2 separate regions of the Homo sapiens genome follow, and region 1 is linked to region 2. The links come from fine-mapping of genetic effects on gene expression. A gene starts in region 2. The other region holds a variant in brackets. All regions are shown on one strand. Distances are from middle to middle. Region 1 has its middle 11 kb from the start of LGALS7. Region 2 holds the start of LGALS4 (galectin 4).

Region 1 (5,376 bases), 50 kb after region 2:
CTTTGTCAAATATATGTAATATGAATATTTTCTCTCCTTCTGTGGTTAGCCTTTTCATTTTCTTTTCTTTTTTTCTTTTTTTTTTTTTTTTTGAGACGGAGTTTTGCTCTTGTTGCCCACGCTGCAGTACAATGGCAGGATCTCGGCTCACTGCAACCTCCACCTCCCAGGTTCAAGCAATTCTCCTGCCTCAGCCTCCAGAGTAGCTGGGATTACAGGCGCCCGCCACCACGCTAGCCAATTTTTGTATTTTTAGTAGAGACGGGTTGTCACCACATTGGCCAGGCTGATCTCAAACTCCTGACCTCAGGTGATCCACCCACCTTGGCCTCCCAAAGTGCTGGGATTACAGGTGTGAGCCACCGTGCCCGGCTAGCCTTTTCATTTTCTTTATTTTTAGTTTATTTTATTTTTTGAGACAGAGTCTCTGTCGCTCAGGCTGGCGTGCAGTGGCACAATCTCAGTTCACTGCAACCCCCTCCTCCCAGGTTCAAGTGATTCTCCTGCCTCAGCCTCCCAAGTAGCTGGGATTACAGGCACCTGCCACCATGCCTGGCTAATTTTTGTATTTTTAGTAGAGATGGGGTTTCATCATGTTGGCCAGGCTGGTCTGGAACTCCTGACCTCAGGTGATCCACCCGCCTCGGCCTCTCAAACTGCTGGGATTACAGAGGTGAGCCCCCACGCCTGACCGAGCCTTTTTATTTTCTTAAAGATGTCTTCCTCAGAACAAAAGTCTAATCGTGATGGCGTTCATTTTATCAGTTATTTTTTCTGTTATGTAGTGTGCTTTTGTGACCTACTTAAATCTTTGCTTAAGAAATCTTCGTGAGAAACATTTGTCACAAAGATTTCTTTTTACATTTTATTGTAGAAGGTTTATAGTTTTAGCATTTAAGTTTAGTTTTTAAACCTTAGTTAATTTTTTTTTTTTTTGAGATGGAAATTCACTCTTCTCAACCAGGCTGGAGTGCAATGGCGTGATCTCGGCTCACTGCAATCTCCACCTCCCGGGTTCAAGCGATTCTCCTGCCTCAGTCTACTGAGTATCTGGGATTACAGGCACCCGCCACCACGCCCGGCTAATTTTTGTATTTTTAGTAGAGACAGGGTTTCACCATGTTGGCCAGGCTGTTCTTGAATTCCTGACTTCAGGTGATCCACCCGCCTTGGTCTCCCAAAGTGCTGGGATTACAGGCGTGAGTCACAGCACTCGGCCTAACTTTAGTTAATTTTTGTCTCATTAGTTAATATATTATTTCTAGTTAATTTTTAGTTATTTTTAGTTAATTTTTGTGTGTGGTATGAGTTAAGGGTCAAGGTTCTTTTCTCACTCTATAGATGTCCAGTTATTTCAGCACCATTTGTTGAAGTGACTGTTTTTTCTCCTCATTGAATTATATTGGCAATTTTGTTAAAAATTAATTGACCATTTTTGTTGTTTTAAATCTGGACTTAATCATTCTTCTGATTCCTTGATTTATATATCTATCCTTATCATGATAGCATATTCCTGATTACTGTAGCTTTATAGTGAGTCTTTCTCTCTTTTTTTTTTTTTTTTTTTTTGAGACGGAGTCTTACTTTGTCGCCCAGGCTGGAGTGCAGTGGCGTGATCTCTGCTCACTGCAAGCTCCGCCTCCTGGGTTCACGCCATTCTCCTGCCTCAGCCTCCAGAGTAGCTGGGACTACAGGCACCCACCACCACGCCCGGCTAATTTTTTTGTATGTTTAGTAGAGACGGGGTTTCACCGTGTTAGCCAGGCTGGTCTCTTAACTCCTGACCTTGTGATCCACCTGCCTCGGCCTCCCAAAGTGCTGAGATTACAGACGTGAGCCACTGCGCCTGGCCTTTTTTTTTTTTTTCCTTTAAAAAAGACGGAGTCTCTCTCTGTCACCCAGGCTGGAGTGCAATGGCACAATCTCAGCTCACTGCAACCTCTGCCTCCTGAGTTCAAGCAATTCTCCTGCCTCAGCCTCCTGAGTGCTGGGATTACAGGTGCCTGCCACCATGCCCAGCTAATTTTTGTAGTTTTAGTAGAGATGGGATTTCACCATGTTGGTCAGGCTGGTCTCGAACTCCTGACCTCAGGTGATCTGCCCACCTCGGCCTCCCAAAGTGCTGGCATTACAAGCATGAGCCACTGCGCCTGGCTTCTTCTTCTTCTTTTTTTTTTTTTTTGAGACAGATTCTCACTTTGTTTCCCAAGCTGGAGTGCAGTGGTGCGATCACAGTTCACTGTGGTTTCAACCTCCTGGGCTCACCCTCCTAAGTAGCTGGGACTACAGGCACATGCCACCACACCCAGTTAATTTCTGTATTTTTTGGAGAGACATGGTCT[C/T]GCCATGTTGCCCAGGCTGGTCTGGAATTCCTGGGCTCAAGCCATCCACCCACCTTGACCTCCCAAAGTGAATAGTGAGTCTTAAAGTCACATTATATGCCTTGCAACTTTGTTCTCCTTTCTCAAAATTGTTTTGTTTATTCTATGTCATTTTCATTTTTCAATACATTTCAATGGATACTTGTACAAAAATTGTATCTGTGTTTCTATTTTGTTCTTGAGTCAGTTTTGGTAATTTGTGTCTCTCTAGGGATTTGTTCATTTCATTTAAATTGCCTAATTAGTTGACCTAAATCTGTTCATAATATTCCCCTGTGATTTTTTAAAATTTGTGTACCATGTTAGTGTTTTTCCCTCCTTCATTCTTGCTTTTGGTAATTGAGGGCTTCTGTCTTTTTTATTTTTCTTACTCTTTTGTTGAACTTTTTAATGAGCTAACTGATTTCATTGAAAACCAGTATACTAGTTTGTTTGTTTGTTTGTTTGTTTTTGAGACAGAGTTTCACTCTGTCGCCAAAGGCTGGAGTGCAGTGGTGTGATCTCGGCTCACATCAACCTCCACCTCCGGATTCAAGCGATTCTCCTGCCTCAGCCTCCTGAGTAGCTGGGATTACAGGTGCCCACCACCATGCCCCACCAATTTTTGTATTTTTAGTAGGGACGGGGTTTCACCATGTTGGCCAGGCTGGTCTTGAATTCTTGATCTCAGGTGATCCACCTGCCTCGGCCTTCCAAAGTGCTGGGATTACAGGTGGGAACCACTGCACCCGGCCCAGTTTTGCTGATCTTTTCTTTTTTTGAGACAAGAGTCTCACTCTGTCACCCAGGCTGGAGTACAGTGGCATGATCTCGACTCACTGCAACCTCGGCCTCTTGGGTTCAAGTGATTCTCCTGTCTCAGCCTCCAGCTGGGATTACAGGTGTGTGCCACCATGCCCAGTTAATTTTTGTATTGTTAGTAGAGACAGGGTTTCTCCATGTCGACCGGGCTGGTCTCGAACGCCTGACCTCAAGTGATCTACCCACCTTGGCCTCTCAAACTGCTGGGATTACAGGTGTGAGCCACCACACCTGGCCTGTTAATCTTTTCAATACCGGTTTTGTTGATGTTTTCAATGAGCCAATTTCAGTTTCATTGCTTTTTCTCTATTGTTTTTATATTTCTGTTTCATTGCTGTCCATTTAGATCTTTATTACTTCCTTCTTACTATTTTCTTTGAGTTTGATTTACTCTTCTTTTTCTAGCTTTGGAGGTGGAAGCCTAAATTATTGATTTTAGGCCTTCTTTCCATTCTAATGTGTTGGGGTTTTTAAAATTTTCACCAGGCTGACTCAACACTAATATGTTTTTTAAGCTATAAGTTTCCCGCTAATTACTACATTGCCAGCATCCTGTACATTTTTATTTCCTGTGTTTTTGTTTTTATTCAGCTCAAGGTATTTTCTAAATTCATTTTTGATTTTTTTTTTTTTTTTTTTTAGATGGAGTCTCACTCTGTCACCCAGGCTGGAGTACAGTGGCGTGATCTCAGCTCACCACAACCTCCACCTCCCAGGTTCAAGCAATCCTCCTGCCTCAGCCTATCAAGTAGCTGGGACTACAGGCATGAGCCACCACGCCCAGCTAATGTTTGTATTTTTTAGTAGAGACACGGTTTCACCGTGTTGGCCAGGCTGGTCTCGAACTCCTGATCTAAGGTGATCCACTGGCCTTGGCCTCCCTTGGCTGGGATTATAGGCATGAGCCACCACACCTAGCCAGATTCCTTCTTTGACACATAGGTCATCTACAAGTATGTTGTTTAGTTTTCTTATATTTAGAGATTTTCTAAATTTCATTTTATTGTTGGCTTTTAGCTTAGTTCCATTATAGTTAGAAGTAATACTTTTTAAATTATTTTTTATTTTTACTATTATTATTTTCTAATAGAGATGGGGGTCTCATTATGTTGCCCAGGATGGCCTCAAACTCCTGGGCTCACGAGATCCACCTGTCTTATCTCACATAATAATTTCTTTCCCTCCCACCCTCCCTCCCTCCCTCCCTCCCTCCCTCCCTTCCTTCCTTCTTTCTTTCTTTCTTCTTCTTCTTTTTTTTTTGAGATGGAGTCTCTCTCATCCAGGCTGGAGTGCACTGATGCAATCAGCTCACTGCAACCTCTGCCTCCTGGGTTCAAGTGATTCTCCTGCCTCAGCCTCCAAGTAGTTGGGACTAAAGGCAGGTGCCACCACACCTGGCTAATTTTTGTATTTTCAGTAGAGATGGGGTTTTGCCATGTTAACTGGGCTGGTCTGAAACTCCAGACCTCAGGTGGTCCACCTGCCTAAGCCTCCTAACATGCTAGGATTACAGGCGTGAGCCACTGTGCCCGGCCCAATCCTATGTCTCTCTCTTTTTTTGTGTGTGTTTTTTTTTTTAGATGGAGTCTCTCTCTATTGCCCAGGCTGGTGTGCAGTGGTGTGATCTCAGCTCACTGCAACCTGGTTCAAGTGATTCTCCTGCCTCAGCCTCCCGAGTAGCTGGGACTACAGGTGCCTGCCACCACACCCAGCTAATTTGTATTTTTAGTAGAGTTGGGGATTCACCATATTGGCCAGGCTGGTCTCAAACTCCTGATCTTGTGATCTGCCCGTCTTGGCCTCCCAAAGTATTGGGATTACAGGTGTGAGCCACTGCATAGCTGGCCTCTCCTTATCTTAAAAAAAAAAAAAAAAAGAGGAGATTGAGGCAAGGCGAAGTTTTAAATTTTTAAATAATAATAACAATAATAATTATTATTATTATTATTTTGAGACAAGATCTCGATCTGTTGCCCAGGTTGGAGAACAGTGGTGCAATCTCGGCTCACTGCAACCCCCGCTTCCCGTCCTCAAGCCATCCTCCCACCTCAGCCTCCTGAGTAGCTGGGAATACAGTCGCACACCACCATGCCCAGCTAATTTTTGTATCTTTTCTAGAGACAGAGTTTCACCATATTGCCCAGGCCGATCTCAAACTCCTGGACTCTAGGGGTCTGCCTGGGTCAGCCTCCCA
Region 2 (5,316 bases):
CCCAAGGCCTTATCTTCACCCCACAAACAATAAAGCAAAGTAAAGAACCTGGTGCCCTTCTTGGATAGAGGAGAGGTGGGAGGGGCTGGGATGCACCTAGGGGCTCCAGAGACTGCAGTCCTGAAGGCTGGGGCTAGAGGTTGGATGCATGGGAATGGGTGGCATGGAGGTGATGGCCATTCAGACTGGCAGCGGGCAGGCGAGGGGCACAAGGAATTCCGGGGCGGAGGGAGTGAGCAAAAGTCGCTGGGGTCCCTCTGGGTTGCAAGGCTTCCTGGTCTCCCTGCCTGCCCTGGGGTTGAGGGTGGCGTTCGTGCCCTGCCTGGCACCTCTCACTGCACAGCACATGGGATCTGATGCTGGCGTCTCACACCTGTAATCCCAGCACTTTTGGAGGCTGACGCAGGTGGATTGCCTGAGCTCAGGAGTTTGCAACCAGCCTAGTCAACATGTTGAAACCCAGTCTCTACTAAAAATACAAAAATTAGCTAGGTGTGGTGGCAGGTGCCTCTAGTCCCAGCTACTCGGGAGGCTGAGGCAGGAGAATCCTTGAACCCAGGAGGTGAGTTTGCAGTGAGCTGAGATCATGCTGCTGCAGTCCAGCCTGGGTGACAGAGTGAGACTCTGTCTCAAAAAAAGAAAAAACAAAACAAAAAAGGACTTTGGGGTTTCTGGCCGGGTGCAGTGGCTCATGCCTGTAATTCCAGCACTTTGGGAGGTTGAGGCAGGTGGATCACTTGAGGTCAGGAGTTTGAGACCAGCCTGGCCAACATGGCAAAACCTGGTCTCTACTAAAAATACAAAAATTAGCCAGGCGTGGAGTAAGCCTGTAATCCCAGCTATTCAGAAGGCTGAGGCAGGAGAATCCCTTGAACCTGGGAGGTGGAGGTTGCAGTGAGCTGAGATGGTGCCACTGCACTGCAGCCTGGGTGATAGAGCAAGACTCTGTCTCAAAAATGAGCAAACAAAACTTTGGGATTTTTTATCCATATATCATCCCAATCTTCCGGATTTATGTTTGGAATGACTGCAAGAGACCAAGCATTAAGTTAATGACTTCTATATGCTATGTCCTGTTCTGAGCATTTATTATCTTAATGATCAAGGACTCTATGAAGTTGATACTATTATGATTATTATTATTATGACTATTATTGTTGCTATTTTTAGAGACGGACTCTTAGTCTGTCACCCAGGCTGGAGTGCAGTGGCATGATCATAGCTCACTGTAACCTTAACTCCTGGGTTCAAGCGATCCTCCTGCCTCAGCCTCTGAGTAGCTAGGAATACAGATGTGTGCTACCATGCCCAGCTAATTTTTATTTTATTTTTGTAGAGATGGGGGTCTCACTATGTTGCCCAGGCTGGTCTTGAACTCCTGGGCTCAAGCAGTCCTCCTGCTTCAGCTTCCCAAATTGCTGGGATTGTAGGCACAAGCCACCACACCCAGCCTAAGGTTGATACTACTCTTTTCTTTATTTATTTATTTTTCTGAGTGGCAGTTGGACCCACAGCTAGAACTTATTTGGCAGATTAATAACATACAGGCATTACTGGATCACAAATTCATTTTTAAAATATTTTGATAGCTATTCAATACTTGTTTCCTCTCTTATGAATTCCTTTTTTTTTTTTTTTTTTTTTGAAACAGAGTCTCCATCTGTCATCCAAGCTGGAGTGCAGTGGCGTGACCTTGGCTCACTGCACTCTCCTCCACTCAGGTTCAAGTGATTCTCCTGCCTCAGCCTCCAAGTAGATGGGATTATAGGCACCCACCACCATGCCTGGCTAATTTTTGTATTTTTAGTAGAGACTGGGATTTTGCCAGGCTGGTCTCGAACTCCTGCCCTCAGGTGATCCATCCACCTCGGCCAGTCAAAGTGCTGGGATTACAGGCATGAGCCACTGCACCCAGCCGATACTACTATATCCCCATTTTACAGATGAGCACATGGGCAAATTGAGGGTAAGGCACTGACCCATGATCATACAGCTGAGAAGTGGCAAAGGCAGGATTTGAACCTAGAACCTCTGGCTCCACACACTAGTAATCTAAACCACTCTCCCTACAATACAACATACGTGGTAAAGATGTGTGGTGGGCACGCAATCAACGTAGGTCCCTTCACAGTTGCTGGGAGAGGCAGGAATTTGCAGTTCCTCCGCGTTCTCCTCCTCCGCTGCCCACCTGTCCTGGGTCATTCCTGCAGCCTGCCCTGCCCTGCCTGGTCTCACCCTCCCTCTGCCAACAGAAGTCTGGGCAGGGTTTTATGGGCTCTGATAAGGCCCTGGCAGGGCCGAAGTTCATGAGCACTTCCTCTTTGCAGGAGGGCGTAGGGGAGGGGACCCAGGTGATTTGGGTCCTGGCTGGTCACCAGGGAAGCTGGCAAGGGAAGGGAGACTAGGGTGCGCTCTAGGAGAAGCCGACAGCCTGAGAGTCCCAGAAGAGGAGCCCTGTGGACCCTCCCCTGCCAGCCACTCCCTTACCCTGGGTATAAGAGCCACCACCGCCTGCCATCCGCCACCATCTCCCACTCCTGCAGCTCTTCTCACAGGACCAGCCACTAGCGCAGCCTCGAGCGATGGCCTATGTCCCCGCACCGGGCTACCAGCCCACCTACAACCCGGTGAGATGCCAGCTCAGGCCCCACTCCGCCCGCAGCTCCGTCCATAAGCCCTCACACCAATTTTCCCCACTCTGATCCTGGGGGGCCCCATCTGACTCTGTGGTCTGATTTACCCAAAGCTGACCCCGACCCTCGATTTACTCCTACCCTGACCTCAGGCTGTCTGTGTCCACGTCTAACTGTTGGCCCTCGTCATCTTCAACCTGGTCCTCCCCCATGGTTTCCTCTCTCCTGCTTAAGGGACTGGGGGGCTTTTCTGGGAGGGGTAAAGGCTGCAACAGGCAGATGGCTTGTGAGTCCCCTCACCAGGCCTCTTCTCCAGACGCTGCCTTACTACCAGCCCATCCCGGGCGGGCTCAACGTGGGAATGTCTGTTTACATCCAAGGAGTGGCCAGCGAGCACATGAAGCGGTAAGACCCTCCCCAAGCCAGGCCGGGCTGGCAGGGGACTTCCAACTGGGTGCTCTGGGCCTGGCTGTTGGGGGCTTTCTGCCCTTACCCCACCCTGGTGGAGAGGGGACTCTTTTTCTGCCCCACCCAATAGCCAGAGATGAATCTGGGGCAGATCAGGAGTGGGGACGTGGGGGCCAGAAGGTTCAGGGAGGGCTCACCGTGAGAGGCAGTCCCTGAGTTGGACATTAGACTGAAGCTGATGGGTGCAATGGCAGGAATTCAGATCACAGGCTCAGAGCCGGGTCCCCGAGTTAAAATCCCAGCTCTGCCACTCCCCAGCTCTGTGTTGGTGAAAGAGTGAAAGTGACTATACCTCTCTGTGCTTCATTTTCTTTTCTTTTCTGTTTTTGTTTTTTTTGTTTTTTTTTTTGTTTTGAGATGGAGTTTTGCTCTTGTCGCCCAGGCTGGAGTGCAATGGCATGATCTTGGCTCACTGCAACCTCTGTCTCCCAGGTTCAAGCGATTCTCCTGCCTCAGCCTCTTGAGTAGCTGGGATTACAGGCATGTGCCAGCACACTGGCTAATTTTTGTATTTTTAGTAGAGATGGGGTTTCACCATGTTGGTCAGGCTGGTCTCGAACTCCTGACCTCAAGTGATCCTCCCATCTCGGCCTCCCAAAGTGCTGGGATTACAGGCGTGAGCCACTGCGCCTGGCCCAGTCTTAGCTTTTTAAAAAGGGCCTTAACACGTTGATAATGATTGGCCTCATAGGACTTTTTTTTTCCTTAGAGATAGGGTCTTGCTCTGTTGCCCAAGCTGGAGTGCAGTGGCACAATATTATAGCTCACTTCGGCCTCCAACTCCTGGGCTAAAGTGATCCTCCTACCTCATCTTTCCAAGCAGATGGGACTACAGACATGTGCCACCATGCCCAACTAATTTAATTTTTAATTTTTATTTATTATTATTATTTGTTTTGTAGAGACAAAGTCTTGTTATGTTGCCCAGGCTGGTCTTGAACTCCTGTGCTCAAGCGATCCTCTAGCCTCGGCCTCCTAAAGTGCTGGGAGGATCAGGCACTGGTATGAGCCACTCTGCCCAGCCTGTTGTTTATTTATTTATTGTTTACTTCTTCACTGAGTGCCTATTCTGTGTCCTGGCACTAGGGATGGAGGAGTGAACAGGACAGAGACCCCTGCCCTCGTGGAGCTGATGTCCTAGTAGGGGAAACATAAAAAATAAGTCCAGGCCGGGCGCGGTAGCTCAGGCCTGTAATCCCAGCACTTTAGGAGGCCTAGGCAGGCAGATCACCTGAGATCGGGAGTTCAAGACCAGCCTGACCAAAATGGAGAAACCCTGTCTCTACTAAAAATACAAAATTACCAGGGCGTGGTGGCGCATGCCTGTAATCCCAGCTACTCAGGAGGCTGAGGCAGGAGAATCACTTGAACCTGGGAAGTGGAGGTTTCGGTGAGCCGAGATCGTGCCATTGCACTACAGCCTGGGCAACAAGAGTGAGACTCTGTCTCAAAAAAAAAAAAAAAAAAAGTCAAATATGTAAGATGTCAGATGATATTAAGTGCTATGAAGAAAATGAGGAGGGAAGGGAGATGGGGAGTGTATGTGCGGACAGAGGTTCCCTTTAAATTGTCCCCTTAAATAGGGTGGCCTGGCCGGGCATGGTGGCTTACGCCTGTAATCCCAGCACTTTGGGTGGCTAAGCCAGGCAGATCACCTGAGGTCAGGAGCTCGAGACTAGCCTGGCCAAAATGGCAAAATCGCATCTGGCTGGGCGTGGTGGCTCACGTCTGTAATCCCAGCACTTTGGGAGGCAGAGACGGGCGGATCACGAGGTCAGGAGATCGAGACCATCCTGGCTAACACAGTGAAACCCCGTCTCTACTAAAAATACAAAAAATTAGCTGGGCATGGTGGCGGGTGCCTGTAGTCCCAGCTACTCGGGAGGCTGAGGCAGGAGAATGGCGTGAAACCAGGAGGCGGAGCTTGCAGTGAGCCAAGATTGCGCCACTGCACTCCAGCCTGGGCGAAAGAGCGAGACTCCATCTCAAAAAAAAAAAAAAAAAAAAAAAAAAGGCGAAATCTCATCTCTGCTGAAAATACAAAATTAGCCAGGCATGGTGACAGGTGCCTGTAATCCCAGCTACTTGAGAGCCTGATGTGGGAGAATCACTTGAATCCTGAAGGCAGAGTTTGCAGTGAGCTGAGATCGCATCACTGCACTCCAGCCTAGGTGACAAAGGGAGACTGTCTCAAAAAAATTAAAAAGGTGGCCAG

The links. PIP is the estimated chance that this variant, and not a neighbour inherited with it, causes the effect. A credible set is the group of variants that fine-mapping cannot tell apart.
Region 1: its variant is the best candidate, but not a certain one, in a credible set for the expression of LGALS4 in lung (TOPMed, PIP 0.51).

The regions. Positions count from the first base shown.
Region 1 is chr19:38,759,932-38,765,307 of GRCh38, reverse strand. No RefSeq gene overlaps it. Among named protein-coding and RNA genes, the nearest start is that of LGALS7, 11 kb to the left of the region's middle. The variant C/T (reference allele first, on the strand shown) is at 2,343.
Region 2 is chr19:38,810,153-38,815,468 of GRCh38, reverse strand. LGALS4 (galectin 4) reads left to right here and starts at 2,524. Exons shown (of 10, transcript NM_006149.4): 1 at 2,524-2,627; 2 at 2,950-3,038. The coding sequence starts at 2,583. It overlaps ECH1 (enoyl-CoA hydratase 1), which reads left to right. Exons shown (of 10, transcript NM_001398.3): 10 at 1-47.